4 linked regions of the Homo sapiens genome follow. The protein of the gene in region 3 interacts with the protein of the main gene of each other region in a pairwise test. Each region holds a gene or a part of one and is shown on either strand. Other genes may lie near its edges.

What was found.
Region 1: the proteins of MAGEA2B (region 3) and TNIP3 interact in binary tests that used the Homo sapiens proteins (3 or more experiments, as listed by UniProt).
Region 2: the proteins of MAGEA2B (region 3) and ANKRD45 interact in binary tests that used the Homo sapiens proteins (3 or more experiments, as listed by UniProt).
Region 4: the proteins of MAGEA2B (region 3) and NEK7 interact in binary tests that used the Homo sapiens proteins (3 or more experiments, as listed by UniProt).

What each region holds. Positions count from the first base shown.
Region 1 is NC_000004.12:121,154,312-121,161,336, forward strand, and holds part of TNIP3 (TNFAIP3-interacting protein 3), read right to left. Parts: intron 6,906-7,025; coding exon 6,825-6,905; intron 4,442-6,824; coding exon 4,376-4,441; intron 2,933-4,375; coding exon 2,783-2,932; intron 369-2,782; coding exon 240-368; intron 1-239. UniProt on the Homo sapiens protein: Binds to zinc finger protein TNFAIP3 and inhibits NF-kappa-B activation induced by tumor necrosis factor, Toll-like receptor 4 (TLR4), interleukin-1 and 12-O-tetradecanoylphorbol-13-acetate.
Region 2 is NC_000001.11:173,666,827-173,674,510, forward strand, and holds the start of ANKRD45 (ankyrin repeat domain-containing protein 45), read right to left. Parts: upstream 3,026-7,684; 5' UTR 2,991-3,025; exon of another isoform or gene 2,245-2,990; intron 1,582-2,244; exon of another isoform or gene 1,298-1,581; intron 1-1,297. UniProt on the Homo sapiens protein: May play a role during cell division.
Region 3 is NC_000023.11:152,710,336-152,717,644, reverse strand, and holds the start of MAGEA2B (melanoma-associated antigen 2), read right to left. Parts: upstream 3,018-7,309; 5' UTR 2,963-3,017; intron 2,799-2,962; exon of another isoform or gene 2,717-2,798; intron 2,567-2,716; 5' UTR 2,488-2,566; intron 1,689-2,487; 5' UTR 1,569-1,688; intron 998-1,568; exon of another isoform or gene 900-997; intron 750-899; 5' UTR 684-749; intron 604-683; 5' UTR 539-603; coding exon 1-538. UniProt on the Homo sapiens protein: Reduces p53/TP53 transactivation function through recruitment of HDAC3 to p53/TP53 transcription sites. Also represses p73/TP73 activity. Proposed to enhance ubiquitin ligase activity of RING-type zinc finger-containing E3 ubiquitin-protein ligases.
Region 4 is NC_000001.11:198,257,973-198,264,997, reverse strand, and holds part of NEK7 (serine/threonine-protein kinase Nek7), read right to left. Parts: intron 2,424-7,025; coding exon 2,361-2,423; intron 874-2,360; coding exon 763-873; intron 1-762. UniProt on the Homo sapiens protein: Protein kinase which plays an important role in mitotic cell cycle progression. Required for microtubule nucleation activity of the centrosome, robust mitotic spindle formation and cytokinesis.

The sequences.
Region 1 (7,025 bases), on a different chromosome or scaffold from region 3:
TCCTCATTTCTCTTTCTCATGATGAATCTTTGTAGGGACAAAAATTCTCTAAAGCCTCCTTAGCCAAGTATGACTGAAAGCTGCAGCTAGGAGTGATTTATAAAATCACAGATAATTTCTTGTGCAAGCCTCCAAGGCTGGGACCCACACTGCAGCCTAGATTTTGTTGCGACTGTCAGTAAGAATGTTTTATGCAGGGACTTCTCATTTTAATCTCCCATGCTTGACCTGACTGATACCTTATTGAGGCGTTTTATTTCACATTCGTAATGTTCCTTTTCCTTGTTCGCAAGAGTATTTTTTCCCTTTAAAAGTTTATTCTCTTCTTTCAATTCATGTAATTCTTCATTTAGGCGTTCCTTTTCCTTCTGAAGTTAAGACCAAGAAAAGAAAATAAAAGTCAGTACAAGTCAAATGAGATGATATTGTAGGAATTCTGATATATCAGCCATGGCAGGCAGATTGAGGGGTCACCCTTCTGAAATACAATAAAAACAGGACCTGCAAGACTTTAAACTTAATGTTCCATTTGAGCAATATTCTTTGGATGCACACTAGAATTAGGATTGAAGGAATCTTTCTTTTATCAGAATTTACTGAAGTATCTTAGAAATTTTGTGACCCCAGGAAAAAAAAAATCAAAATTCCCAATTCTTTTTTTTTTTTTTAAAGACGAATTCTCACACTGTCTCCCGGCCTGGAGTGCAATGGTGTGATCTCAGCTCACTGCAACCTCCGCCTCCCAGGTTCAAGCAATTCTCCTGCCTCAGCCTCCCTAGTAGCTGGGATTATAGGTGCCTGCCACCACGCCCGGCTAATTTTTTATATTTTTTAGTAGAGATGGGGTTTCACTATGTTGGCCAGGCTGGTCTCAAACTCCTGACCTCGTGATCTGCCCGTCTCAGCCTCCCAAAGTGCTGGATTCCCAATTCTTACTTTCAATTATCAGACAAATGGGTCTGCAGGATAAGCAAGTCCTTATATACTGTCACTAGGTGATGGATAAGTGATTAAGAAAAATAGCTGAAAGTCTTAAAAAGAAAAAACTCTCATTGTGAGAAAACAATACTAAATATCTCAAAGCTCATTCCTGCATCATTCTGTATTAGAAAGAGGGAAAAGAGAATAATCCTTAGGCCAATAAGACCTTTCATTACAGATCATTATTTAGAGCACTCTATTGTTGTGATTATTATTTTTAAAAGGTAGAAATCAACTAGTCCAACTGCCACCACTCCTCCAATTTTAGATGACAATCTAAAATTGTCATCCAGAAGTGCAGTGTTTTAAACAACTGAAGGTTAGCTGCGTAAACATCAACAGGCTCTGGATTCAGACAATATCTCCTACCTCTTAATTTTGTATAATAGATAGCAAACATTTTGTGAAGTAAATTGGATTCTTAATGAGATTGAGATTTTAACCCAGTAAAATAAATATTGCAGAAAATAGGTAACTTGACATGCAAAAATAGCTAATATATGTGTTAAAGTGTGTTATTTGAGTAACTAATATTTCCCAATATGATTATTAAATTTAAGAAATCCGCTTTAGGTAATTCATTTTCTTTAAAAGGGAAAATATTTCTATTTGCTTTTATTTAAATAGAATGAACATATACACTTAGAAAATAAGCCAATTATTTTCTAATTTAGCATAATTTAAGAGAAAATTATTCCAATAAGATAATGGTCCCAACTGCATTGAGGGAAAAATTACTCAGATTCCTGGCTAGAGTGTAATTGGAAAAGGAAATGACTGCTACATGGCAGAAAGGGAGTGTTGCTAAACTCTGTTTTCCTGACTCACTGTGACAAAGACATCCTCAGCAAGATAGGAAAACCTGGACTGGCATTGTCTGCGCGAATTTCAGACATTGCCTTAAGATTTGTACATGTTTTAAAATATTGCCATTGCCTCACGATATCAGTGATAAGATTTCCCCTCAGAGTCTTTACACTTTGTTTTTTCTTACTATACCTAAAATAACGAGGGGCCATTAGAGTTTAAGGTTTCCTCCCATTTTCTACAATATTCATGAAGTCCAATAATTGAAAGTAAAACCAGGAAGAAAAAGTGTTCTTCAGGAAAAGCTGTCATCTCAATTGTCACCATCCAGTTCTCAGCAAGGGACTGATAGAGCTTTAGAATCTGGAGGTTGGGTTCAAGTCCTTTTTCATCAACGTGGGCAATTCAATTTGTTTACATCTCAGCTTTCTCATTTTTAATATAGCAAAAATAATATTTTGCTCACAGGTGGGCCAAGAATGTTAAATGAGATAATGAGGACGAAGGCTTTAAAAAATGTCATAAATTTATGGTGACAGAAGTAAGACCTCATATATAAATCTCTCTGTAAGCTTGAAAAGCTACTGCACAAATACAAGGTATTGCCATATTATTATTATGAACACTACTAATAAAAATAATAAATACGAATAAAAGCAAAAGAAAAAAAAATTTCTCCTAGGCTGAAATGCCCTAGAGAGTTAGCAAATTTATGGATCCGTTTTCTTCTTCCTGGAAGGGACTGGGGAATGACTGTCTGCCTATTTATGCAAACCAGGAGGAAGCCGGCAGAGAATCTCCTTCCTTCTTATTCTAGAGAAGTGACCCTTGTTCATGGCTCTTGGGGACTTGCGTAACCCATGCACCCTTGCACATCGGTCGTTGCTCAGTAGTGAGTTGATTTTAATAAAACGGTAGGTTTTCTACAGGAAATCCCCCCGCCCCTTTGCTTTTATTTGGATCCTCCGGGCTCGAGGACCCGGGCCCCGCCCACCTCCTCCCGCTGCAGCCGGTCCCGGGTCAGGTCGCGCTGCCTGTCGTCCTCTCTCTGCCTGTCGTCCTTTCTCTGCCTCTGATGCGGATCCTTCTCCCGCGTGCTGAGGAATCTTTCCGCGGCGTCCAGTTTCGTCTTCAGCTCTGCTACCTGAGGAGGTCGTTCAAAGACAGCTGCAGATACCTTCTCTGAAGCTCACAAGCCCCTGGATTTATTCCCAGGCTATGAACTTTGGCAGAAACGCCCCACCCCAGGACGTCCCCTAAGGAGAGGTTCTAGCTCCCACCGTCCCGAACACAGATCGGGATACTCGCGTTTCAAAGGGAGCTTGGCCTTGCACCAAAACAGCCTTCTTTTCTCCAAACCACCCAGCTCTTCCTTCTTTTCTCCAAACCACCCCTACTTCAGAGGGGATAAAAGACTTAGACCCCACCCAGGGGAATCTGTAGGTTTGTCATTCTATTCTCAACTCTCCAGGTGAGCCTAGCCTGGTCTGGAAAGGGCAATGAGGGGCAGCAGGTTAAGTAGCATATGCCTACACCAGAGAAAAACAGACATGGCCTTTAATTTATCAGTAATTTGCAGCACTTGACCTCCTACTAGGTGCCAAATCACTCTGATGACAGAGTGACAGGTCCTCAGAGTGGCCACAGTCCAGAGGGAGAATCTTAGAGATGGATGCATCTTCCAAGATGGAGATTATAGCCATCACTAACACTGTCTTCACACACCTGCAAGCCGTTCGAGAAAGCAGCTTAAGCATTCTCTCTGGGATCATCATCTTTAACATTTACAGATCCGGATTGCCCCAGCAGGGATATTGCAAGGCTGCCTGACCATTGCCTGGTGCAGCAGGAACATTATCCTGCACCTTCTAAATTCAATACTTCTGGGTAACAAAATGAGGAAGAAAGGAAAAATGCTGCTATATTACAATACTCATGGTCAAGTTTCTTAATACTGAATTATTTAGGGGAAAGTACTTGCTCTTTTTATCTCTTTTTGAAAATAGAATAATTTTAAATTATAAATTGTCTTTTATGTATTAAAGGAGGTTTTCTTCCAAAAGCCCCTTTCTCACCAGAGCTTCTTGAGAGCAAATATGCTTTAGATGGAAGAGGAGGTTGCTCCATTTTTACTCACATTTTCACTGTTACCACCATTTGTTTCTCTATTTGTGGAAAATAGGTCATGCTATCTAATTAAAGAATTAGGGCTAACCTGGCGTAAACAGTATGGACTTTAAACCATATCTCACCTCACATATAACTTTGTGTATTTGTGGCTTCTAGTGACAAAGGTAAGGCTGGGATACTCTGTGAGCCACGATAAATGTGCACAAGAACTCTTGAGACATCACTGGGGGCCATTTTTGCACCTTTCTTTAGCTATTGCTCAAGACAACTCACTGACACCGTTCATTAATTTTCAGTGCCATGAGACCAATACTACACTTAGCACCCTTCCCGTCATTTTCCAACAGTTGGCTATCCACAAAGCTCTTTGTAGCTGAAATGAATGAGACTCTTCACACAATTGGCCCCACCAGGATAATGGCTTTAAAGAAAATACCGAATAGAGAGAGGTATTTACCTTTCTTTCATATAACTCTTTCATACTTCTAAATTGCTGATCCCATTGCTGGTTAACTTCCAGGAGCTGAAATCATTAAAATTTGGTGAATCAACAAAGAATTTCTGCCCATTTGGAAGTTTGGTCAAAAAGAAATTACTTTCTGAGCTTATTAAGGTTTTAGAAGCCATGGATGAAGACAATATTTTTTTCCATCAAGTTCTGATTGTGCTGGGATGATTAAATTGAACACACTCTCACTGTTTATAACTGGTTCGTATATGAAAAACTACTGGCTGGGTCCGGTGGCTCACGCCTGTAATCCCACCACTCTGGGAGGCCATGGCAGGTGGGATCACTTGAGGTCAAGAGTTGGTGACCAGCCTGCCCAACATGGTGACATCCCGTCTCTACTAAAAATACAAAACTTAGCCGGACGTGGTGGCATGCACCTGCAGTCCCAGCTACTGGGGAGGCTGAGGCAGGAGAATCACTTGAACCCAGGAGGTGGAGGTTGCAGTGAGCCGAGATTGTGCCACTGCACTCCATCCTGGGCGACAGAGTGAGACTCCATCTCATGGAAAGAAAAGAAAAAAAAGAAAAGAAAAGAAAAGAAAAACCAGTAAGTCTCAGGTATATCTTGACAAGTCAGCTGAACAGTTTATCAGTAACTTTTAACTTTTTTTAGTTATTTGGATTTTCATTTTCTTTGTTTAATCCAACCACAATCTGATAAAAATTTGTAAGTATTGATGATTGTCTGTAAGATTTCTTAATGCATGGAGGTTCTTTTCCCAAACTTTTTCGTATTTTTCTTTGTGCTTACACTGATTATAATGAAATATTTTTTCCAGCTCTTTTAAAGCAGAATTTATGCTAACAAAGCCTAGGCTCCATTAACTGATCACGATTTTCTTGCAATAATGTGTTTTAAAAGATTAACACATGATTTATAATAAATACTCAACAAATAGGTAATATCACCATTTTGAAAATTTAGATTTTCAAGAAATTATAGTTTCGTCATAGGACAATATTTAGATGCATTTTAGGCTACAAATAATTTAAAGATCTTAAGACTATCTGCTAATTAGAAGGCAGAAGAAGTGCTATGATATGTGGTTGGCTTTTTGTTGGGGAAGTTTGTAGTTTTCTGCATTAAGAGAAATTCCAACGCTTATCTATAGGGAACAGACACTGAGAAGACAGTCATAATGACTAAAAAGTAGCAAAACTTTCTCCTAATTAAAAAGCAAACTACTGAATCCAGAGTGGCAGTTACTAGGTAACTCTTATGCTGAAAATACATATCATTATTTAGTATGAAACTGTATAATATTATTATATTGAGAGTTACTCTGTTGGCATTTTAGGGATTCCCATGTGTATACTATAGTAACATTACTCTGCCATCGTTCAATAATTTTCCAGAAGGTCACAATATTCTTCAAGTATCAAAGAAGAGTAGAAGGCACCATGCAAGAGAACATGAAAGATGTAGTACACAGAATGAATTAGAAAAGGAATTACAGGCTGGGCACGGTGGCTAACTCCTGTAATTCCAGCACTTTGGGAGGCTGAGGTGGGCAGATCACTTGAGGATAGGAGTTCTAGACCAGGCTGGCCAAAATGGCGAAACCCCATCTCTACTAAAGATACAAATATTAGCTGGGCATGGTCGTGCACGCCTGTAATCCCAGCTACTTGGGAGGCTGAGGCACAAGAATCACTTGAACCCTGGAGGCAGAGGCTGCAGTGAGCTGAGATCGTGCCACTGCACTCCAGCCTGGGTGACAGAGCAACACTGTCTCAAAAAAAAAAAAGAAGGAATTACAAAATTGACAATATACAGAGTGCTAAAATTGTTATACTTTTCACTACTTCCTCTGTCAAGAAGAGTAAAGAGGTTCTAACATTCATTAAGCTCAGAAAAATAAAATTCCAAATAATACCCATTAATTCCCAGGAACATTTTAGAAACAAACTTTATTTATGATAATGCTTTTTAACTCCCATGTGTTTGGATGCCCAGTTCATGAAGTCATAGCACCTAAATCAACTATACTTAAAGACTTTTCAAGTAACTCAAGAAACCTTGAGTTTCAAGGTGTGTCAAGTTGCAAGGCATAAAGGGTAAAGGTCATAAGGCACAAACGATAAAGGCATAAAGGATAAAGTAACTTGGTCTGTGTGGAGGAAACATCTAAGTTTTGAGAAAATTAGGATTATATTACCAGACTTATGACTTTGTCGTTTTTCATTCGTCACTGCACAGACACTGAGACAACAAGTATGAAACATACAGGTGAATAAGAAAGAAGGCGTTTGCTTTCAAAATAGTGCAGTCCAGTATCTTAAAGATAAATACTGTGACCTGATAACAAAAATAAAAGGCACAAGGATAATACATTATTTTATCCTCAGCATTAATCCATGGCACCTGTGGCTTTAGCGAATATTTCTAAGTTACCTCTTTTCTTTGTTTTTCCAAACACCTTATCTTTTGTTCAAGAGAATTCATCAAGTTCTTTCTTGTTGATGGTTCAGCACACTTAGAAAAAAAAAAAGAGAGAAGATTGAAACAAAGCTGTTTACAAAATAAACAGAAGTACTGTTCCTCAGAAACCCCATGCATTTGGCCAACTCTCCTGTTGCGATTTAAAAAATACCT
Region 2 (7,684 bases), on a different chromosome or scaffold from region 3:
ACTACAGCCTGAACTCCTGGGCTCAAGCAATCCTCCCAACTCAGCCTTCTGAGTAGCTGTGACTATAGATGTGTGCCATCACACCAGGCTAATTTTTTAATTTTTCTGTAGAGACAGGGGGTCTGGCTATGTTGCCCATGCTGGTCTCAACCTCAAGTGATCCTCCCACCTCAGCCTCCCAAAATGCTGAGATTACAAGTGTGAGCCACCGTGCCCAGCTGCAATTTGCATTTTAGAAAACTCATACTGGCCATGTGTTGGCCAACGACTTCCCAATACTTTTATGATGAGATCAGAGATGATATTAATGAAAGTGGGCTTTTAAAAATATTACAGCATGAAACATGTTAACATTTGGAAAACTGGTATAACTAAATGAAGCAACATTTTGCTTGATTTGAATGACTGCTTTTCTTCTTTACAAAATCAGCTTCACTCCCCCTGCCATTTTCCATTATGTTACAATATCAAGCATGGGTAAAAGATCCAAAGTATAAGACAGATCAATAGATTTTAATGTAACACAGTATGAAACGTTCATTGACATGGCTTCAGATTCCACACTGCAACCAGCCTTTAAGAAACTACCACTTGTGGCCAGGAGCAGTGGCTCACACCTGTAATCACAGCATACTGGGAGGCTGAGGTGGGCGGATCACAAGGTCAGGAGTTCAAGACCAGCCTGGCCAATATGGTGAAACCCCGTCTCTACTAAAAACACACAAAAAAATTAGTCGGGCATAGTGGCAGGCGCCTGTAGTCCCAGCCACTCAGGAGGCTGAGGCAGGAGAATCACTGGAACCCAGGAGGCAGAGGTTGCAGTGAGCTAAGATCACCCCACTGCACTCCAGCCTGGCACAACAGAATGAGACCCCATCTTAAAAAAAAAAAGAAAGAAAAAGAAACTACCACTTGCAGAGTTTTGGTGCAGTCACAAAAATGTGCACAATTATCTGAAAAAGCTATTAAAATACTCTTCCCTTTTCCAACTATATATCTATGTAAGGAGGAATTTTCTTTACATATTTCAAAACAACATATTGCAACGGATAGACTGCAGAAGCAGACATAAGAATCTGTCTCCCATTAAGCCAGAAATTAAAGACATTTGCAGAAATGTAAAATAATGCCACTTTCTAACTAATTCTTTTGTTCTGGAAAATATTTTTATGAGAAATATATAATTATGTTACATGTGAATTTATTTTTTAAGGAATTAATAAACATTTTTTAAATCCTCAGTTTAATTTCTAATTCTTACAACATATGTAATACTATATTAAAAGACATAACTCACATAAAGGAAAGCTCTTCGGGATCATTTCTTAAGAGTAAAATGGAGTCCTGAGACAACAAAGTTTGAGAGCACTGCCTTAGGATATACATGAGACCTAGAAATAGGAAAGTCTTGCAGGATGCTTGCCCTACTCAATTGCTATAGCAGGGCAAGGAGGCTTTGCAGGGAGGGAGGGCTGTGGTGCAAACCACTCCAGTCAGGGCTGAAGGGAAGTCACAGCAGGAACTCAGCGCAATTGAGTGAGCCAGGGAGCTCAACCGAGTCCTGACAAAACCAGGAGATACCTGTTCACAAGGTATATAAGCCAAAGGTTAAAACCAAGAAAGCCATAGGGCAGGGAGCACTCGGTATACCAGGAACATCACCCCCCAGAGCCAAGGGAAGGCAAAGGGACCCTGACCCGTCCCCATAACTGATTCCGTGAGCCATCCACATAGCCAGGGCACCATCTCAAGGAAAGAATCCAAGAAGATACCTGATAACCTAAATATTTGTATATAAGAGAAATTAAACACTAGCCAAAGAAATCAATTCTAGATTGAGCTAAACTTTAAAACCAATCGGACATTTAGATTCTTTCCTAATAATCAATAAGTAAATGCTCATGAAAGGAACCAGATCAGTCATATACAAAAATAAATTACATTTTCTTTGCCCACAAAAGTAATAACATACATCAAAATTGTAACCTTGCTACATATAACTGAAGTTTCACAGAGAATATGAGCATTGGAGGGAAGAGGGAAGGCTGGAACTATGAAGGCAGAATGGCATTGCTTTAGTCTTGATTCTGTTACTAATTATGTGACTTTTCTGAAATGAGGATAGCACCTGGTCTGCCTTACTAAATAAGTGTAGAAAAATCTATAAACTTTTCTTTTTAACTATAGAATGTGATTGCTTTCGAGCCACCCACAATAGAAAATCACATAGGTCATAGCACCTACCCCATAGGCTCTCACATTTTGGTAGGGAAGACACAAGTAAATCAGCAATGACAGAGTGAGATCAGGGATTCAATGGAGGTAGGTAGAGTGCTTTGAAAGTAAAACCGTGGACATCTACATTCAATTCTGGGTGGCGGTCTCAGAAAGTTTTCCCAGAAGAGGTGAAACCTCGATAGTGAAGAGTAGGAGTCTTAAAAGGAGGAAAAAAGGACAATCCAGGTAACGGGAAGAGCATAAACAAAGGGCAAGGAGGCAGGCGACGCAGCCTGAAGTTGTGATAGAGGAGTAGATCCTAATGTGCCTTTTAAGCCAACTGATTTTTTTCTTCAAAAAAAAAAAAAAAGTAGTCGCTTAATCAAGTCCCAGCTCAAGGAGAAGGACCCCAAGGGCAACCCTGGGCACACAGAGTTAAACAAAGAGAAGGCCTGAGGAACAGGATACAGAAAGTGGCAGCGCCGCCAGGTGATCCAGGAGGTCCCGCGAGGGGGCAACGGACACTTCAGGGCACCAGAGTTTGCTCTTCGGCCTGAATTCCCTAGGGACCTTCTGCGATCCCTTGCGGCTGCCGGCGGGGTAGGAGACCGGTGCGCAAAGCTCTGGACAGAAGCAGTGTGAGGACGCTGAGATTGAAGCCCACTCCCCTCCAGCCCTGCCCGAGCAGCCTGGAGGGAAGATGTCCGTCTACCCCATCGCACTCCTCCCCAAGTGCCCACCCCGGCCCACAGCGCCAGGACCCCTAGACTCACCACACCCGGGCCCCGGCCTCCTCGGTTACCATAGCAACGGCGCAACACGCGAGGCAGCGCCTCCTCCTGCGCCGCGGTTCCGGCAGCGCGGGAAGGTTATTCTTGGTTGCAAAGGCGCAGGAAGCCAGAGTGGAAAACAGCCAGGAATTATCTATAATTTCAGTCTCTGGGTGGCGTGTCGGTTTTTTCTTTGTTTTGTAAATTTTCTGTAATAAGGTATTTGTTTTACAGTTTAAAAATAAGTTGTGCATATTGGTTGTTGGCCTGTCTTTGGCTTTTAAACGAAAGAATTTTCTGGAAATATGAGGTTGCATTCTAAAAACTACAAAAGATTGTATGAATAACCCCTTGCTTAATTTTCTAGTTATTGGATATCTTTCTCCCATGGTTTATGGTCATTGTCACCAGCAAGGAGTGTTTCAGGCGACCTCACAAGTGCCAACTACCTTAGGAGCAGAAGAAACTTGGAGACTATATCCCTCTTGATTCAGAAATTCAAGATGCAAAACACAACTTTAAAAGGGGGGAAGCGATGGAGGTGGAGGGACAAGGGGTTCGAAAGAAACCAGCAGGGAAGGGCCAGGCATACCTAGCAATTATATCAATGTTCACATGAATCACACAGTGAAAACAGGGAAGTTTTTGTGCTGAAGGCAGGTGTGAAGGAAAATATTCATTTCTTTACTGTTTCTACCAAGAGTCCACTAAGGAGTAAGTGAATGTTTTAGAGGGGCTCTGAACATCTGTGCTGAAGTTCGAATAGCCTAGTTCTGAAATGAATATTTGACCTAAGGCCCAAGCAAAATTTCACCATTGTTACAGTAGGTAGTCAGGCATGAGCAGAGCAGGCTCCCCTATCCCCCACCAGGAATGTCAGGCGACCATCAGGTGATAGGCAGTTGTTAACTGTCTCTCTAAAATAATAATTGGTTGCAGCCAATGCCAGGAAAAGGCACTCTCCGAATAGATAGAAAACATCTGAAACTGGTTATCAGCAGCTTCCCCATAAGAGCTCAGGAGTTAGGTGATGTGAGAAACACACTCACCTGTCCAAACCCAAAGAATGGACTTAGAGGCATGAAGAACAGCAAAAGAGACACTTTTTAATAACGGTCTTGCAAGATCGGGTGTCTGGTGAGCAGGAACACCCAGTGCAGTTTCAACAAGGAATTTATCACCTAGTGTGCAAGTCCCTACCCTGGTTCCTCATAGGCTGAGTACTATGGGGTTACAGTCTTCCCCAACGTTGCCTAAGTTTCATTATCCCCTTATAAGGTTACATCTTGTCTCCTTCCCCACTTTAAGTTTTGATTTCCCAATGACAAAACTTTCTTTCCTTTTATGGATTAGCCACCCCACCCCCTATTTTTTTTTCTCCCTCCCCTCTGACTTCTGTGAGTCTTATCACTCTTCCCAGATGTCTGTAGCATGCGGCTTGTCACATCTGCAAGGGAGCTGCCTGGATTTGCCGGGGCCTGTTTTCTGAAAAATGGACCACTTAAAAAGTACTTCTTACAGGTGAGTGGGCTCAAGGATACACATTAAGAGTCAAAATGGTGGAGTTTAACTGGTATATGACCTTCTTGGGTACATTCAATTGGTAAGAGAAGAATGCCTCAAGTGTCATGCATAGAACTGCAGTAAACACACTGCACGTGCTCCTCTCCCAAGTGCTAGCAGGCCACTGCACATGTGGATAGCCCATCCCAAGAGAAGAATCAGGGGAGAAGGGACGCAAGACCCTAGAAGTATGCCACCATATAAAACCCTAAGGCCGGGCACGGTGGCTCATGCCTGTAATCCCAGCATTTTGGGAGGCCAAGGCGGGCGGATCATGAAGTCAGGAGACCAAGACCATCCTGGCTAACACAGTGAAACCCCGTCTCTACTAAAAAATACCAAAAAAAAAAAAAAAATTAGCCAGGCGTGGTGGTATGCGCCTGTAGTCCCAGCTCCTTGGGAGGATGAGGCAGGAGAATCACGTAAACCCGGGAGGCGGAGGTTACAGTGAGCCGAGATCGCACCACTGCCCTCCAGCATGGGTGACAGAGCAAGACTCCGTCTCAAAAAAAAAAAAAAAAGAAACCCTAAGTCAAAAGTCAAACTGGACTTGATCTCTCAAAGTCACCCACTTGGCCCTTTCCAAGTGTACATTACTTCCTTTCATTCCTGCCCAAAAGCTTTTTAATAAACTTACACTCCTGCTCTAAAACTTGCCTCGGTCTCTTCTTCTGCCTAATGCCCCTCAGATTCTTTCTTCTGAGGCAAGAATTAAGGCGGCTGCAGACCCATACAGATTCACCACCAGTAACACCATCATAAATCTGAACTTTTGAAATACAAGAATAAATTTGAATTTTTTCAAATGTAATTATTAATTTTTCATGTTCAAATAAGTTGTGGTAATCAAAATTTTAGAGTTTTACATTATAGAGAGGAACAATAATCTGTCAGTTGGAAGCTTGCTCCTGCAGTCACTATACAACACATTTGCTCTACTCAACAATCATTTCTTACTGAAGGTGATGAAGAGCAAGGCTAATTTTAGGCATTTCAGTTTTAACATGCTATTTTTCATAGTCTTTGTTTTTTAATATCTGGATGGAAGATGACTTATGATGCATAACTGTACAAAACTGTACATGATTCTGTTTTTCATTAATCTTCAGGGGATATGAAGAATTCCCAAATAGAACTGTTTCTTGAATGTCTGAAGTGGAATTAAACAACTAAAAATTAAATAGAACTTTTAAAGATTATTTTTTAGTGCTCTGAATGCTAATATTAGAAAGGTAGTAAGACACAATAGGTTTGAGACCTAAAAGCAAAGATGCCGTGAGCTCCACTTGAACTCCAGGTCAGAAACAGCTGCGTGATGCACCTAGGCAGACCAGGTTAGAAACAGACAGGAGATTCATGGCAAGAGTGTGGCCTAGATGCAGCAGAAAGACTCCCATGACACCCTCTCTTAGCCACACCCCCTGCAAGCTTGACCTGAGAGTATTGGAAAGAGCCACTGGATTTGAAGGGGCCGAGTGCCCATGTGTAAGACACATCTCAGCAATAACCTGTGGGTATTAATGATGGAGGTCCAGATAAGACAGTGAAGGCCTGGTGAACAGACAGCTTAAGCAGCAAATGATTAAGCACTATTCAAACCCCCCAGAAATTAGATCCCCTCCAGAAAATTATGGTAGGTGAGAGGTTTCCAAAACTATTGAAACTAGTTTTTTCCAACATAAGAGAATAGGCCCTCAGAATAGAAATTATTGTATAAAAAACTACATTTCTATACTTTTTTTTTTTTTTTTTGAGATGGAGTCTTCTTCTGTCACCCAGGCTGGAGTGCAGTGGTGTCATCTCGGCTCACTGCAACCTCCGCCTCTTGGGTTCAAGTGATTCTCCGGCCTCAGCCTCCCAAGTAGCTGGGATTACAGGCACACATCACCACGCCTTGCTAATTTTTGTAATTTTTTAGTAGAGATGGGGTTACACCATGTTGGGCAGGCTGGTCTCGAACTCATGATATCAGGTGATCCACCCGCCTTGGCTTCCCAAAGTGCTAGGATTACAGGCATGAACCACCACACCCTGCCATATTTCTATACTTCATAGACTGAGTCATGTCCGTTGTACAATGTCAATTTCTGATGAAAAACCTGGATCAACTAGTTGAAAAATTTACTCCAAGGTAACTTAATGTGCTACATCTTGTTGTTTGAAAGCCTATTATATGCTGAGTACTGTGTTAAGTGATTCATATAAATTATCTCTAATCCTTATAGCAACTCTATAAGTTGCTATAAGAAAGTGATATTATTCTTGAAACCGACACTTCAGAAGGTTGAGTCACCTACCTAAGACCACACAGCTAATAGGGCCAAACCAGGATTTGTACCTAGGTCAGTCTGGTTTAAAACACCAGAGGACTGCTACTTGTTAGCTATATGCTAATTAAATATTAGAGAAAATCTGCCAAAAATAACAACTTTATTTCAAAATAATTTGCCTTGAGTCTTTCTGGCAATAATTAGATAATATTAAAGCCACTCCCCTGGTGTGTAACTAAAGAATTATTTCTCCATGTAGCTAATCTCTACAGTTGAGGAGAATGAAATAGTGAACACCCATGGTTTTCACCTGCTGGTCCCTCCTTTTCTGGTTAGTGAACTCCCATTTTCTGTGAGGGAACCTTTCTTTTCTTTTTCTAGATATAGCATCTTACTCTGTCACCCAGGCTGGAGTGCAGTGGTGTGATCACGGCCCACTGTAGCCTCATTCTCCCCAGGCTTAGGTGATCCTGCCACCTCAGCCTCCCAAATAGCTGGGACTACAGGCACCCACCACCATGCCCAGCTAATTTTTTTTTGTATTTTTTGTAGAGACAGGGTTTTGCCATGTTGCCCAGGCTGGTTTCCAACTCTTAGCCTTAAGTGATCCTCCTGCCTCAGCCTCCCAAAGGGCTGGGATTACAGGCACGAGCCACTGCACTCGGCCCACCTTCATGGTTCTTTTGGGATGGGGATATTTTTGGCTTTTTTTTTTTCCACATTCACCATGCTTTTGTGAACCTCAAAAATCTGAGACAGGTATCAGTTGATTTGGAAAGTTTATTTTGCCAAAGTTGAGGATGCACGCCCATGACACAGCCTCAGGAGGTCCTGATAACATGTGCCCAAGGTGGTTAGAGCAGT
Region 3 (7,309 bases):
TGACAAGGATGTACAAGTGGCTGATGGGGACCACTTCCACCACCTCGATGCCAAAGACCAGCTGCAAGTACTCGGAGGCTTTGCTGAAGATCACGGGAAAGAAGTCCTGGCAATTTCTGAGGACACTCTCCAGCATTTCTGCCTTTGTGACCGGCTCCCTGGCTCGATACTTGAGGAGCAGAAAATGAACCAACTCAACCATCTTCCTACTGATTGCTGCTTGGAACTCGGACTCCAGGTCGGGAAACATTCTTGGCCCCTCCTCTTCTTGGTTGCTGGAGCCCTCATCGGATTGTCTCCAAAGAGTGTAGTTGATGGTAGTCGAGAAGCTGGAGGCTCCCTGAGGACTGTGGGGAGGACTCGGTGAGTCGGCAGCAGGCACCTCCCCCAGGGTAACTTCCACTAGAGTAGAAGAGGAAGAAGCGGTCTGCTGCTCCTCAGTAGCAGGAGCCTGCGCACCCACCAGGCCCAGGGCCTCTCCTCGGGCCTCAAGGCCTTCTTCAGGCTTGCAGTGCTGACTCCTCTGCTCAAGAGGCATGATGACTCTGGTCAGGGCAGCAGGCAGGAGTGCGGGCAGGAGCTGGGCAATGAAGACCCACAGGCCTGGGGAGAGAAGGAGCGTGTGTGAGGCCTTAGGTGAGAACTGAACTGAACCTTGGAGGCTCTGACAAAGGCTTACTTACAGATCTTCTCCTTCAATGCTCCTCCAGTGCCTCGGGTCCTACTTGTCAGCCTGTCCCCCTCAGAACCTGAAGGAGGAAGTGGGAGGGCACCTCAGGGTACAGCCGGCCAGCACATGCTCAGGCTGCAGGACTGAGAATAGGGAGGGTGAGGCCAGGCCCTCTGGAGTCCCATTTGTTCTGGGCGGGTGGGGCCCTTGGTGTGCATTCCAGGCAAACCTTCAGTGTTGGCACTGTCTGCGTCCCCTCTGCTCTGTGACCTGAGGACACTGACTCAGACCAAGGCCTCACTGCCTGGTTCCTGGAGCTCCTGATTCCTGGGAGAGGAATGCACGGGCCTTCAGTGTGCAGACTGCAAGCACAGCCACGGATTCCCAGAAGTCTCAGCAGGGTTGGCCAGACTCCGTGAGGTCCCCACTCTACTTGGGTGGAGGGTCCCCTCTGTGCTCACTCAGGGCCCTCACCTTTCTCCTTGTAGGGCCTAATCCCACCCTTTTGCTGGCTTGAGAATCTCTCATGTCAAGAACTCACATCCCTGATATGGTACAGAAGGAGATGAGGGGACCCACATCTGGCCATACGTGACCAGGTCCTCCCGCGAAGGACAACGAGAGATGTCCAAATTCATTGGAGTCCAGGTGTCCTGGGTGACGAGTCCGCTTGGTCCTCACGTCCACTCCTGGCAGGGCCTGAGACCCTCCCTCTACTGACCTGACTCCAGCCCCTTCAGACCAAGGCCTCCCCTTCCCTGACATCAAAGATCCCAGGATAATGGAGGGACTTCAGCTGACAGCCCTGCCCAGGGTCTCTGAAGTAACCGCAGGGGCAGGGCAGATTTCTATGGGGCCCCCTGTCTGCATTCTGGCCCAGGAGTACCCTCAATCCTACCTCAGGCTCTCCACCTGGATGCTTGGCAGATCCTAGAACCACTGCATCTGTCGACCAGATGGGGGCCCCTGTGTTGACCTGAGTCACCTTCTGAAAACAAGGTCATCAACTCCCTGAGATCTGGAAACAGAAGTGAGGAGGGGCCACATCCTGTTACCCCCACGTGCGTTGTCCAGGGCTGACCCCTTTGGTTCTAGGGTGAACGTTATGATGGCCTCCTGTGGGTTACTCATCTTTACTCCTGCCAGGGACTGCCCTTTCTCAACCCCCAACCCCCTGAAATGAGCAGACAGCTCCTCTTTACACCAACACCTTATCTCCCTGAGGGTTCCCCAACCTCCTGCCTGTGGTACAAATGAGATTGTCACTTAGGGCCATCCCTGATCAGGTTCCCCCAGAGCTAAGAACAAGGGACGGCCAGACTCTGTGGCATCCCTTCTTTCTGGGCCGGGGGTATCCCCAGTCCTCATGAAGGGGGCACACCTTGGGTCCGGCAGATCCTGGGATTCCTCCCTCTGCTGACCTGAAGTCCCAGCCCTCAGACCACAGCCCTCAACTCTCTGTCACCCTGAAGGTGCAATGAGCACGGGGCACATTCGGCCACTGTGCCCAGGATCCCCCAGCCCAAGGTTGCCACTGATCTGGACTCCAAGGTCCCCTCAGTCCTCCCTCTTCTTCCTCCCCTTGACTCCTCGCAGGGCTGGGCCCCAACCCCCTGCTGAAGTGGGTCTGCATCCCTAGGATTCCCGCGGCTGAATGAAAAGGTGGCTCAGTTTGAGACAGGGGTACAGTGGGCCCCCTGTCCTGGCATGCTGGGTCCCCTAAGGACTCCACTGTCTTCCAGGAGGGCCTGGGCCCTTCCTCTGCATCCCAAAGGCCATACTCACGAGACCCAACCCCTTCCCTCCCTTAGCCGTACATGTGAACGTCAGGATCCGCGTGCTTGGCCGCCATTCCCGGAGCTTCCGTGGGTTGATTGCAGGGGCAAAGCCCGGATTCTGCCAGGATGGTGGTGGGGGAGGAGATGGGAATGGGGTTTGGGGGTGGGGTTGGTGTTTGAGGGATGGGGGTGGGGTTGGTGTTGGGGGATGGGATTGGTAGTGAGGGTAGGGGGTGGGTTGCCCTCAGTCCCCTCTTGGGGTCCTGACCTTGATTCCTGGCTGAGTCTGGGCCCTGAGCACTTCTAACCAGCCCTGCCCTGGTCACACAAAGCTCTTACGCCAGAGTTCCCTGCGGTTAAAGCGGCGGGGGGTGGCGGGGTGAGGTGGTGGCGACTCAGCCTGAGAAGTCTTCCCCTGCAGGGTGGTCCAGGCCCGGCAGCAGAGGCAGCGCTGGATTATTGGGGGCCCTCTGTCTGGGGTGAGGCCCGCCTCAGTCCTCCCTCGGCGTCTTACCTTGCCTCCTCACGGAGCCTGCGCCTGCTTCCCTCCGCCGACGTCAGGCCGTTGCTCAGGGCGAGAATCTCGCTGTCCTCTGACCTCCAATGCGCAAGTCAGTGGCGTCACATCCGGGCCCGTGACTTCCCTGGGTTCACGGCAAGGGTGGAACCGGATTCTGCCCGGATGGGGATCTGGATGGGGGGGTGGGGGTAAGCATGAAGATGGTGTTGGTGTAGGGGTAGGGATTGGGACGGGGATCCTGAGGCTGTAGATCCTGGTGGGGTCGGGGGAGTTGGGGGTGGGAGGGGCCTTTGGTCATCCCTCAAGGTCCTGACTTGGATGCCAGACTGAGCCTGGACCGCCATCCTCTGCCGATTGTGTTTGCTCCCCTCAGACCAAGTCTCTGACTCTGAGTCGGCCCGAAGTGGCATTGGGGGGAGGGGTGTGCTCGGGGTGAGATCATTGCCAGTGTGTACCAGGGCTGACAAGAGGGGCTGAGCTGGATTCTGTGGTCCCACTATGTGGGTGAGGGTGGATCCTCAGTCCTCACTCAGGAGGGTCCTCTTCCTCACTCCTGGCTGTTTGATGAAGGAATGGGTGGGAGATGCTCTGTTTCTGTCACCTCTGAGCATCTGCGCATCTGCGCATCTGCACCCCTTGTAGAGAATGGCTGCGGGTGCCAGGCCAGGTGCTCCCTGCAGGGCAGGAGCTCCCGCGATGATAGTGACCTCTGGGAGAAGACGCACACCTTCCCACGGGGGCTCCTCCCCAGCCAGAGCTACACTTGGCAAACCTTTGGTCCTAAATGATTTATTCTCTGAATTGAAGAAATACGGTTTACATATCTTCTAAGTATATATGTAGGTAGCAATATATATATTTATTTCTATGAACTAACACCTACCCTTAGTATGCATGATTCACTCTGATATCCTAGTCTACTTCCATTCCAGTCTTTGTGTTCTGTTGAAAGAATTTTTTTAAAAAACATAATTCCTCTCCCACTCTGTTGGTTTCAGGTTGTTATTAGCAGAACTCTGGAGCCATGCTGCCTTAACAAACCCAATTTTCCTGGTGGACACTGCTATTACCTAGGGCTCTTGGCATCGTGTTTTCAGGGGCTGCCTCAGATTGTGCAATGAAGTGAAGTGGAAAATTCAAAACTTTTATTCTACCCATTCTTTCATCTGCCGTCTAGGCAGGCTACAAACCTCCCCAACATCTCTGCCGCTAACCCCCTCCAACAGACACTGCAAGTGTCACACACAAGTACCAGCTCAACACAGTCTCCAGTCTCACTCTGGGCTTTCCCTGTTTTGTTGTGTAGATTTTCTTGCTGATACTGGTGTTTTACTTTCTGTTTCCATTCTATAAATTTACAGGGTTGATTTGGGAAGCAGAGCACAGCAGCCCAAATTTGCTTGTAATGTCGGCGGCTACAGGTAAGGCACTAAATTGTAAATAATTTAAGCTGAGTTTACATTTTTACACTGTTGTGTTCCCCGTGAATGAATATGTTATACTCCTCTATGGATTTCAAGCTCTTTTTTCCTGAATATGTCAGTATACTTCGGTAGTTGCCTCTATAAACAACTTATACATTTTTATTAGGCTTCTATTCAGGTAATTCTTGGATTTTGTTGCTATTGCAAGTGGCATATTGTCTATCAATTGTTGTAGTTAGTTATTGCTTTCGTGAGGTGAAGATTTTGATTTTGCTGTAGTAATCTGTTGCATACCTCGTTCTGAAGGCCGATGCACTTGAATATTCCGCATACCTTTTCCTTTGAATTTTCAAGATCGATAATGGTATTATCACTAAACACTACATGTTTTTCCAATGTTCATACCACTCACTCATTTCGGTACTTACAGCTCTTTGTGTCTCAATCCTGATTTCAAATGTAGAGATAATAGGCTACATCTACTTCTCGTTCCTGACTTGAATGATAATTCTTCGAACATTTGACATTTAAGTATGTTTGCTGTTGATTTTAGGAAATGGAAGTTCTCTTTCAGTATAGGTTGCCTAAATATTTTCTTTTTTACCATGAATTCATATTAAATTTATTTAAAAAGCTTTTTCTGTACCCGTTGGCAGGATCAAATTTTTTTCTCTTCCATTTTGTATGTAAGGAATCACAATGAAACAGATGTTTTTTCTAATGTTAAATCATATTTTATTTCCTTGGGCAGAGCCTGTTTATTCGTTTAATGTACTACTAATTTATGTAGGATATTTACTGCTGTGTAAGAGAGCTTACTTGATGTGTTCTTTTTCCATCAGGGGAGGTATGTGGTCCTCATCTGGTTTTTAAATCCAGGAGGGCTAGCCTGGGAGAATGAACTGAACAATTGTCAGTCTTTTGTATGTTCTGGAAGAGTTGATATAAGGCGGTGGTTAGTTTTCCCTGATCATTTGGTAAAATTGGCCTCCAAAGCTGTCTAACCTGGAATGTTTGAGGGTGGCTTGAGCTTTGAATATTGTACAGTTTCTGTTGTATAGTTAAAGTTTTCTTTTCCTCTTTGGATCAGTTTGGTTACTGATTTATTTTATTTCTACAAAGTGGTCAGTTTCATTTAGGATTTCACTTTTAATGGCATATTTATGATAAAAAAGTTTTATTAGGGAAAGCCTTCACACATACAGAATAACAGGAACGAATATAATGAACCCAGGATACTTGATACCGAGCATGAACATCTTTAAATACACAGCAAATCTGGTTCCAGTTAAACACTCGCCTACCTGCATATGAGCTGCTGGAATAACGTGGAGTAAATCTAAGGCATTAGACCATTTCATCTCTAAATAACTTAATATGCATTTTTAAAAGATAAGGATTTTTTTAAAACAAAAAGCCGATAGTTTTCATATCTAAAAAATTAAATAAATGATTATCAAATGTTCAACTATGTTACACACTTATCTGGCCAACTTAAACTTTATAAAATATATATTTCTTTGATGGAGTACAAAATGTGTTAACTTTTCCCCCCACTTGCTTCATTGTGGTGGTTTCATATATCTATTATACAACTAGGTGTGTGTGTGTGTGTGTGTGTGTGTGGAACATTCTACCTGCCGTCCCGTGATTCTCCAACCTCTTAAGTTACTTTTAAACTTTACATACATTAAGCTTCACTCTTTGTGCTGTAAAGATCTATGGGTTTTGACAAATGCCTCGTGCCATTGTCTTAGTCCGTTTGGGCTTCCATAACAAAAATAGTGATAGACTGGGTGGCTTATAGACAACGCAACTTTATTTCTCACATTCTGGAGGTTGGGAAGTCCAAGATCAAGGTGCTGGCAGATTTCATGTCTGGTGGAGTCCTGCTCCCTAGTTCATAGACAGCTGCCTTTTCCCTAGATCCTCACATGCAAGAAGGGATAAGGGATCTCCGTGGAGTCTGTTTTATAAAAACACTAATCCCATTCATGAGGACTCTGCTCTCATGATCTAGTCATTCTCCAAATACCCCACCTTCTGCCTAATACCATCACCTTGGTAATTCAGCAGATGAATTTTGTGGCAACACAAATATTCAGACCAAAGCAAGCACGGAACCACCATTGCAGTATTATGCATACCAGTTTCACTGCCCTGATAAATTCCCTTGTGCTTGTCGGATAAACCCCATGGCCACCACTGATAGGTTTTTCATCTTTATAATTTTGCATTTTCCAGAATGTCATATAAATAGAATCTTATACTATGTAGCCTTTTTAGACTGGTTTCTTTCACTTAGCATAATGAACTGAAGAGTCATGTATAACTTTGTGTGGCTTGGAACTTATTCCTTTTCATTGAGGAGTAGTATCAATGTCTGGTTATATATATATATATATATATATATATATATATATATATATATCCATTCACCAAATGAAATACATTTTGGATGCTTCTATTTTTGGTGATTATGAAATAAGCTATTGTATACATTCATATACAAATTTTTATGTAGACATAAGTTTTCAAATCAATTGGGTAAATTGATTGAGTATGGCTGCTGAATCTTGTGCTAAGTCTATTTTCATTTTTTTAAGAAAACGCCAAACTGCCTTCCAAAGTGGCTGTGCCATTTTGCATTTCTACCAGCAATGAAGGAGAGTTTCCGTTGCTCCACATCTTCGCTGGCAATTGTTCTTGGTCTTGTATTCTTTGTTTTGGTTTTCTATGGATTTTGGACATTCTGATAGGTGTGCAGTGGTATCCCATTTTAGTACACAATTATCTAATGCCAAAGGGTGCTCAGTACTTTTATTATGCTTATTTGCCATGTGTATATCTTCTTTTGTGTAGTGTGTGTTCAGATCTTTGACTATTTTCATTTTTTCTATCATTGAGCTTTAAGAAT
Region 4 (7,025 bases), on a different chromosome or scaffold from region 3:
AATAATAGCAGCAGCAGATACATTTACATAGCCTTACAATGTGTGAGGCATTCTTCTAAGCTCTTAATAAATACTAATTAATTCAATCATTACAACAATCCTATAAAGTAGGTTCTATTATTACTGTGTTTTTTAGAAAATGTGACACAGAGAAGTAACTGGCCCAAGGACAAACAGTTTTTAAGCTACTATTATTTAAGGGTTTCTATTAATTGCAGCTGAACTTAAACCCAATTAATATGCCCTTAGAAAAGAAGGTTAAACAACTTAATTATATTAATTATGAATTAATATGCCCTTAGAAAAGAAGGTTAAACAACTTTTATGTGGGGTTGATATCCAAGGTCTGACTGCAAATCCCACTTTCTTTGATGGATTCCCCCCCAAGAAACAGGTCAAGCTGCTCTAGAGTCTCTTTCTACCTCCTTTTACTCATGTCCAGAGACACAGGATCAAGCATGGTCTGCTCAGAGAATCAAACAGCAAAACTTTAACTCAACTTACAGAAGACAAGTATCTTGGCCTCTTTCCAAGTTGGTTTTGGGGTGTTTAGATATTTAAGCTGATCAGTGTAAACATCACCAAGTAAACCAGTTTCAGAATTATGATCACTAACCATCTACTATTTGTTACATATCTATCAGATAAGCTTTGCATTGAGGTCTTTAGTTTAAAATATCTAATATCCCTATGTGTTTAACAGACAATTCTATTAGAAAAAAAAACAAAACAAAACATTAAGACAATTTTTTCAAAACTTACCTTGATCATTCTGGATAGGTCGCCAGCATCTGCTAGTTCCAAAACTATGTTTAGTTCATTATCTTCAATGAATGATGCATAATATTTTATTACATTTGGATGGTTGAGTTGCTGAGAAAATAAAACAGGCATCAGAAAGTTTTCTTACTGTAAATATCCAAGAGTCACTTATAGTTTTGTACTTAAGAACAAACTTCACCGTATTTTTTAAATTACAGAAATCTTAACATGACAGTATACTTTTCTTTAGTGAATTGTGAAACAAATATTACAATTATTAAAAGTAAAACTAGGTATAAATTAATTTATCTTAATATTCTTTATTAGAAAGAATATATTTTACGTTTAAATCTTAATTTAAAAGTACTGCTATGCCCAATAAGCATATCAACAGATGCAAGAAGTAAATGATAGAATTAGGTCGCCAACTGCTAAAAATTACATCCTCAAAATGAGAACTTTCATTTAGGAACACTCAATGATAAATAAAGTATCCCTTTTTACTCCTACTTGGAAGTTATGGTTGGTCCTAGAATAACTCCAGCTAGTAGACAAAACACAGCTGGTACCTACTATACTATATCTAACTATTGCTTTTATATCAAATAACATACAGGACTTATTCATGTGAGCCAATTCATAAAATCATCCCTAAGAAAAATTTTACCTTGTAGAAATATACGTATCAGTCCCTACTCATTTGCAATCCTTTTGTTCAATCTTTAAACATATTAATACAAGATGAATTGTTTCTCTGAGAAATTATGCAGAAAGTATGGGTGACTTTCTTCTTTCTACTTAAAGTTTTCGCTGCAAATTTTCTATGATGACATGCTATTTCCACAGTAAAAGTTTACATATATTTAAGCCAGCTACTTCATGTGCCAAGAAATAACTACAACTAACAGAATAGTCAGAAAACATTGTTTTGACCTTACTTTCTTCCTTTTTGCATAAATCTGGTTCATTTTAGGCACTAACACAAACGGATGGCATAAAAAAAGAGCGAAGTCTTAACTAAAAGTTAAAAATACAACATAGGCCGCAGTATTTCTCAAAAGAAACTTCACTATAAAAGAAGCAGTGCAGAAATAACTGAAATCTCAGTCATATTCTTAGTAGATGAGAAACTAAAAAGCTAATTCCTGGCATACTCTTTACATGCACTCTGTCTAAGTCTGGAAAAAGTATTGAAACATTAGAAAATGCATGTGAACCATTTTGATTAGTCCACATTCTCAATATAATACATGTTGAGATAATGCTAATTTGCATTTATATTACTTAACCTTTAGAATATGTCTTGTTGGGGTGGTCAAGAAAAAAAAATTCTTCAATGTTTTATGCCCATTTTATCTATTTCCTACTTTGAAATGAGAAAAAAAAGCTGGTCCTACAAATGTTCTGATTATGTTATTTAACAATAAATCCAAAAAATAACTACATTCTTCAGTATACTGAAATTTAACCTTATATAATATTACTTGAAATCAGTGTAGCATAAGTCTTAAAAACCTTTTTGTGTTTAAGTGTGATATTTTAGTAAATCACTTTTATCACCATGTTATGTTCAAAAGAGTCAACAGTTCATTAATTACCTTAAGAAGATCTATTTCTTTGATGCAATCAGCACGTGCTTTGGCATCCATTAAATCAAATATCTAAAAACAGAACCCAGAATTACTTAATAAAATAATAACCTATGGTTCAAGCTATTGTGTAAATTCATTTTAATACTCTACATGTAATTATTTGTACACTAAGGAATTTTCTTTCTGATTAGCTTTTCTTTATTAAGGAGTTCTGTAGGTATCTTATGTTACCAACATTGCTTACATTTTCAGCAGTCAGTATTTAAAAAATGGATAAAGAGAACAGGTAGATACCCCTTAACACTCAGGTCTTAAGTTCCAATGAACAAAATTAAAGTTGTGATTATTAAGATGATAAAGTAATAGCTAATATATGTTGAGCAATTAATATATGCTAAATGTACTGCACAACCTTATGAGGATGATAATAGTAGTATTCCCATTTTACAGATGAAGAAGAGAAGCTTTAGAAAGCTAAGGAGAATGACAAAAGGTCACACAGCTAATCAACAGAGCAAGCAGAATTCATTCTCAGAGTTATCCATCTAGAACCCAAGCACTGAACCATTAATCTGTTCCATCAAATCATGTCTAAAAGGTCTGATGCATGCATTCTTGACAAGGGTGATATCATTCCAAGGGGGTGAAAATTGGTTCTTTGTGGAGAAGGGTAACAAAATTTTACTCTATTAAGTATAAAGTATAGATACACATACAGTACTACACATAAACAGATATACTGTATTTGTGGAATTAAAATTTCATGGGTAGAGGTAATTAGGAAGAAATGTCTAAACAGGCAGCTTGGGGGGAGGATAATGAAGAAAAGGTTGAAAAATATTAACCTACTGTTAAAAACATAAAAATAAAAAATACAATCAAAAAGATATTTCATGTGTCTCTGAAAACACAAATCTCTCAAGGTTCTAAGTGTGTGGAAAATAACATTTAAAAAAGCAATATCTTAGAGACTGCAAAAAAAATCTAAGTCAGTACTGCAAGCTGATTAAAACCCTAGTTACATAACAAATAAAAAAATTAATGACATTTTTAGTAATCAGCTTGATCAAGTCTTCCTGATTCAGCCAGCTAACATTCCAGGAAAAGAAGGTACAATGTCAAAGGAGTGGCAGAATCCAAGTCTTTTTAATTAAAGAAGTAGTTATTAGACACTACCAGAGAGGGCTGGCCTCTTTACACATGATGCTTTAAACTTCATTGCAATCTTATAAGACAGGTAGTATTGGCCACAATAACAAGATGAGGATTGAGGCTCAAAAAGATTAAATAATATGCTTATGATCATAAAACTAGTAAAGGACAGAATCAGGACTTGAAGCCAGGTTGTTCTAGCTCCATAGTCAGTGTTTTCTCAATGAGCCAGGCTGTCACAAAGTCTAATGCATACACAACTAGCTAATAAGTATTAAAATATATGTGTGTACAAAGTGTAGTATTAGAAACCTAAGGAAGAAATTCCTTCCATGTAGGGTGGCGGGTACCATTAGAGGTGAACCTTGAAAGAATTATAGGATTCTGCCAGTCAGAAACAAAAGATATCTACTGCATAAAAGTAAATATGGAATAAGGGTGTAAAATTACAGCTTATAAGAGGCAACTTTTTCTAGATATCATTCTTAATATCCAAAGATACACAAAGTTCTAATTTGTCTTAATTTAAAAAACCATATGAAGATATTAGATAAGATTATAAAGCAAAAATAAAATCCATAAACTCACTGCCTTAAAGAATTTTAGCTTTGGCTCAGTCCCTTCTATTTCTTGTACAAACGCATGTGCTTTTTGCATAGTGAAAATAGCAGTATATAAAATGATATATATGCTTTTTCACTAACATTATTTTGGTTCTACTACTTCTAATGAAAACTTCAAGTATCAAATTTACGTTCTGCAACTTTTAATGTAAAATATTGAGCACTGCAGTTTAAGATTTGAAAAAATATAAAGCCTTACCTTACTTGATGGTTTACAAAAAGAGACAGACTAGATTACATCAAAGTTTCTCCCACTTAATCAAATAACAGAAGAAGAAATATGTATGCCGGTACATATATTAAAGAGAGTTAACTTCTCTTTTTTCCATTAGCAGTAATTCTAACCATGTCAGCCACAGTAAACTCATGTTAACTACCATGATTTCAGAATGGAACAGAATGCAACACGATGAAACAACAGCAAGGAAAGGAAAAGGGGTTAAAAAAAAAAAAGGAAAGGACTATGAGTGGCAAATCACTATCACAAAGTTCACATAAACTATCTAGTAAGATATGTTTTAGCTAACATTAAGCTGTTGTATACATTAAGCTTTGACAAAATGAGCTAGATATAAATGGACACCAATAGCAGGGGTTAAAAAAATTACCAGTATTAAAGAACAAACCATATGACACTATTTATGGAAGGAAGGAAAAACCTTGCAGAAATTTTCTCCAAGAGCATCATAGTTTTAACTCTACACACAAATTATTAATATGAATAACCTGATCCTGAGTACAGACAAGCTTAAACTGTTAATGCCCACCCTTTCTACATATAAAAATCCATGCTGAATGCCATCTTACTATCAGATTTTATTACAGATACAAATAAGAAAACCATCTTGCAGTCCTTTAAGATGCACAGTGTCAGATGCAGAATGCAGACTGCAACACAGAAAATTAACACGCAACTTGTAAGTGCTACTTGTTCAAAGTGATGTAAGAACCTTAATGGGGGTGAGCATGGCTGGCTGGAAGGGCTCTCAATAACTGATTTATATAAGCAGGAATGCGTAATGCCCTTCAGGAAAATATATATGTGTGTGTGTGTGTGAGTGTGTGTGTAAAATCGAAAGTTCTTGAACTGAAGGAATAAGCTTTACATTTAGCAATTTCACATAGAAATGCCATTCATTCCCCCAAAGGGATTATTATATCAACATGTTAAACAATAAAACAAACACTAATGGAAACAGAAAAATTTGAACTTGATATTAGTTATAGGTATGAAACACACACACACAGACTACTTGCACTTTAAATCAAAATGGCATGAGAAATAACTGATTCTTGACACATCATAAATGCTGATGCCATTCTCAGGAAATGCTATTTACAAGGAATTTGAGATAAATCAAAGATATACTGGAAAGCACAAAATTGTAAGTATATCAGATCTTGATGTAATTCCTGGTATTTTTGTTTGTTTGTTTTAGGAGGCAGAGAAAGAATAATGCCCATATAGTACCAGTAATTAAAATGAAGAAAATCACAAACTTGGAGACATATATGTATTTAATCTCTCAGTAATCAATGTCTCTATGATGTGGAACAACATTTTTAAAAACAAAAGAGGGTGAGTGAGATAAGAATGAATAATAGATGTATAAGAGTTTTAGGAAACCATAACAAGATACAACATATCAAGATAGAAACATGCTACATAGAAAATCTTTAATTCAAGTTATAAAAATTAATTTAGAATTACAAATTGACTTTTATTTTTAACTGAATTTTCAATAATATCAAAAGTCACTCCTCAAACACAGGGAGAAATAAGCATTGATGGCACATCTAAAGCAAAACTAAATTCTGAGCAAAATACATTTACAAATACATTTAACTGGAAATTCAGAAGTATCTTATCTTTCTTTTTCTCTCAGCCAACAAGTCAAGACAAAAATAAATAATAATGAATATTTAGATTACATCATTCCCAAACACAGATTCAAAGCTGTCCGATGATTTCATGAGCAAGAAAAAGCAGTATGTCTTGGGTGAAAATATGGACTTTGTAAGAATATCTTGCATATAATATGTACAAACAAGTCTTTAGGAGGCATCATTTTCATTCAGCTCCACCAAAGTTTCTTCAGGTTTTTAAACTCATTTTATACTTGGTAAGAGCAAGGGATGAGCTGTGGTTAGGCAAGTAATGACTGATAAATTCTTGGTATTCTCTGAATCATTTTAAAGGTTTTCTTTTGTCATCTTAAAATTTTGCCAAAATTACTCATAGCTAATGAAACTGAAAAGGTTAACACTAGATTTCTTTAAAAGGAAATGAAATCCTTCTAGTAACTTAACAGAAATATCCCCTTAAAAAGGCATATGTCAAATTGTTAGAAGAAAGACCATTTAAAATGCAGAAAACAAAGTACTTAAAAATATATACTAAGCAAGTTTTTGTTGTTGTTGTTTTTCTTTTTTGAGAGAGTCTTGCTTTGTCTCCAGGCTGGAGTGCAGTGGCGTGATCTTGGCTCACTGTAACCTCCACCTCCCGGGTTCAAGCGATTCTCCTGCCTCAGCCTCCCAGGTAGCTGGGACTACAGGCGTGTGCCACCACACCCAGCTAATTTTTGTATTTTTAGTAGAGACAGGGTTTCACCATGTTGGCCAGGATGGTCTTGATCTCTTGACTTCGTCATCTGCCCGCCTCAGCCTCCCAAAATGCTGGGATTACAGGCGTTGAGTCACCGTGCCCGGCTCTACAGCTGGAACCTTCCTGTCACTACCCTTCAGATGACTGACTCCTTATCCTCCACCTACGCTTAAATTTCACATCCTCGGAGAGGCCTTTGCTGCACACTCTATCTAAAATGCTCTCCTCCTCTAGTTTGTCTCTAATACCACAGCATGGTCATTTCCTTTTTGGCTATAATTATTTGATTTA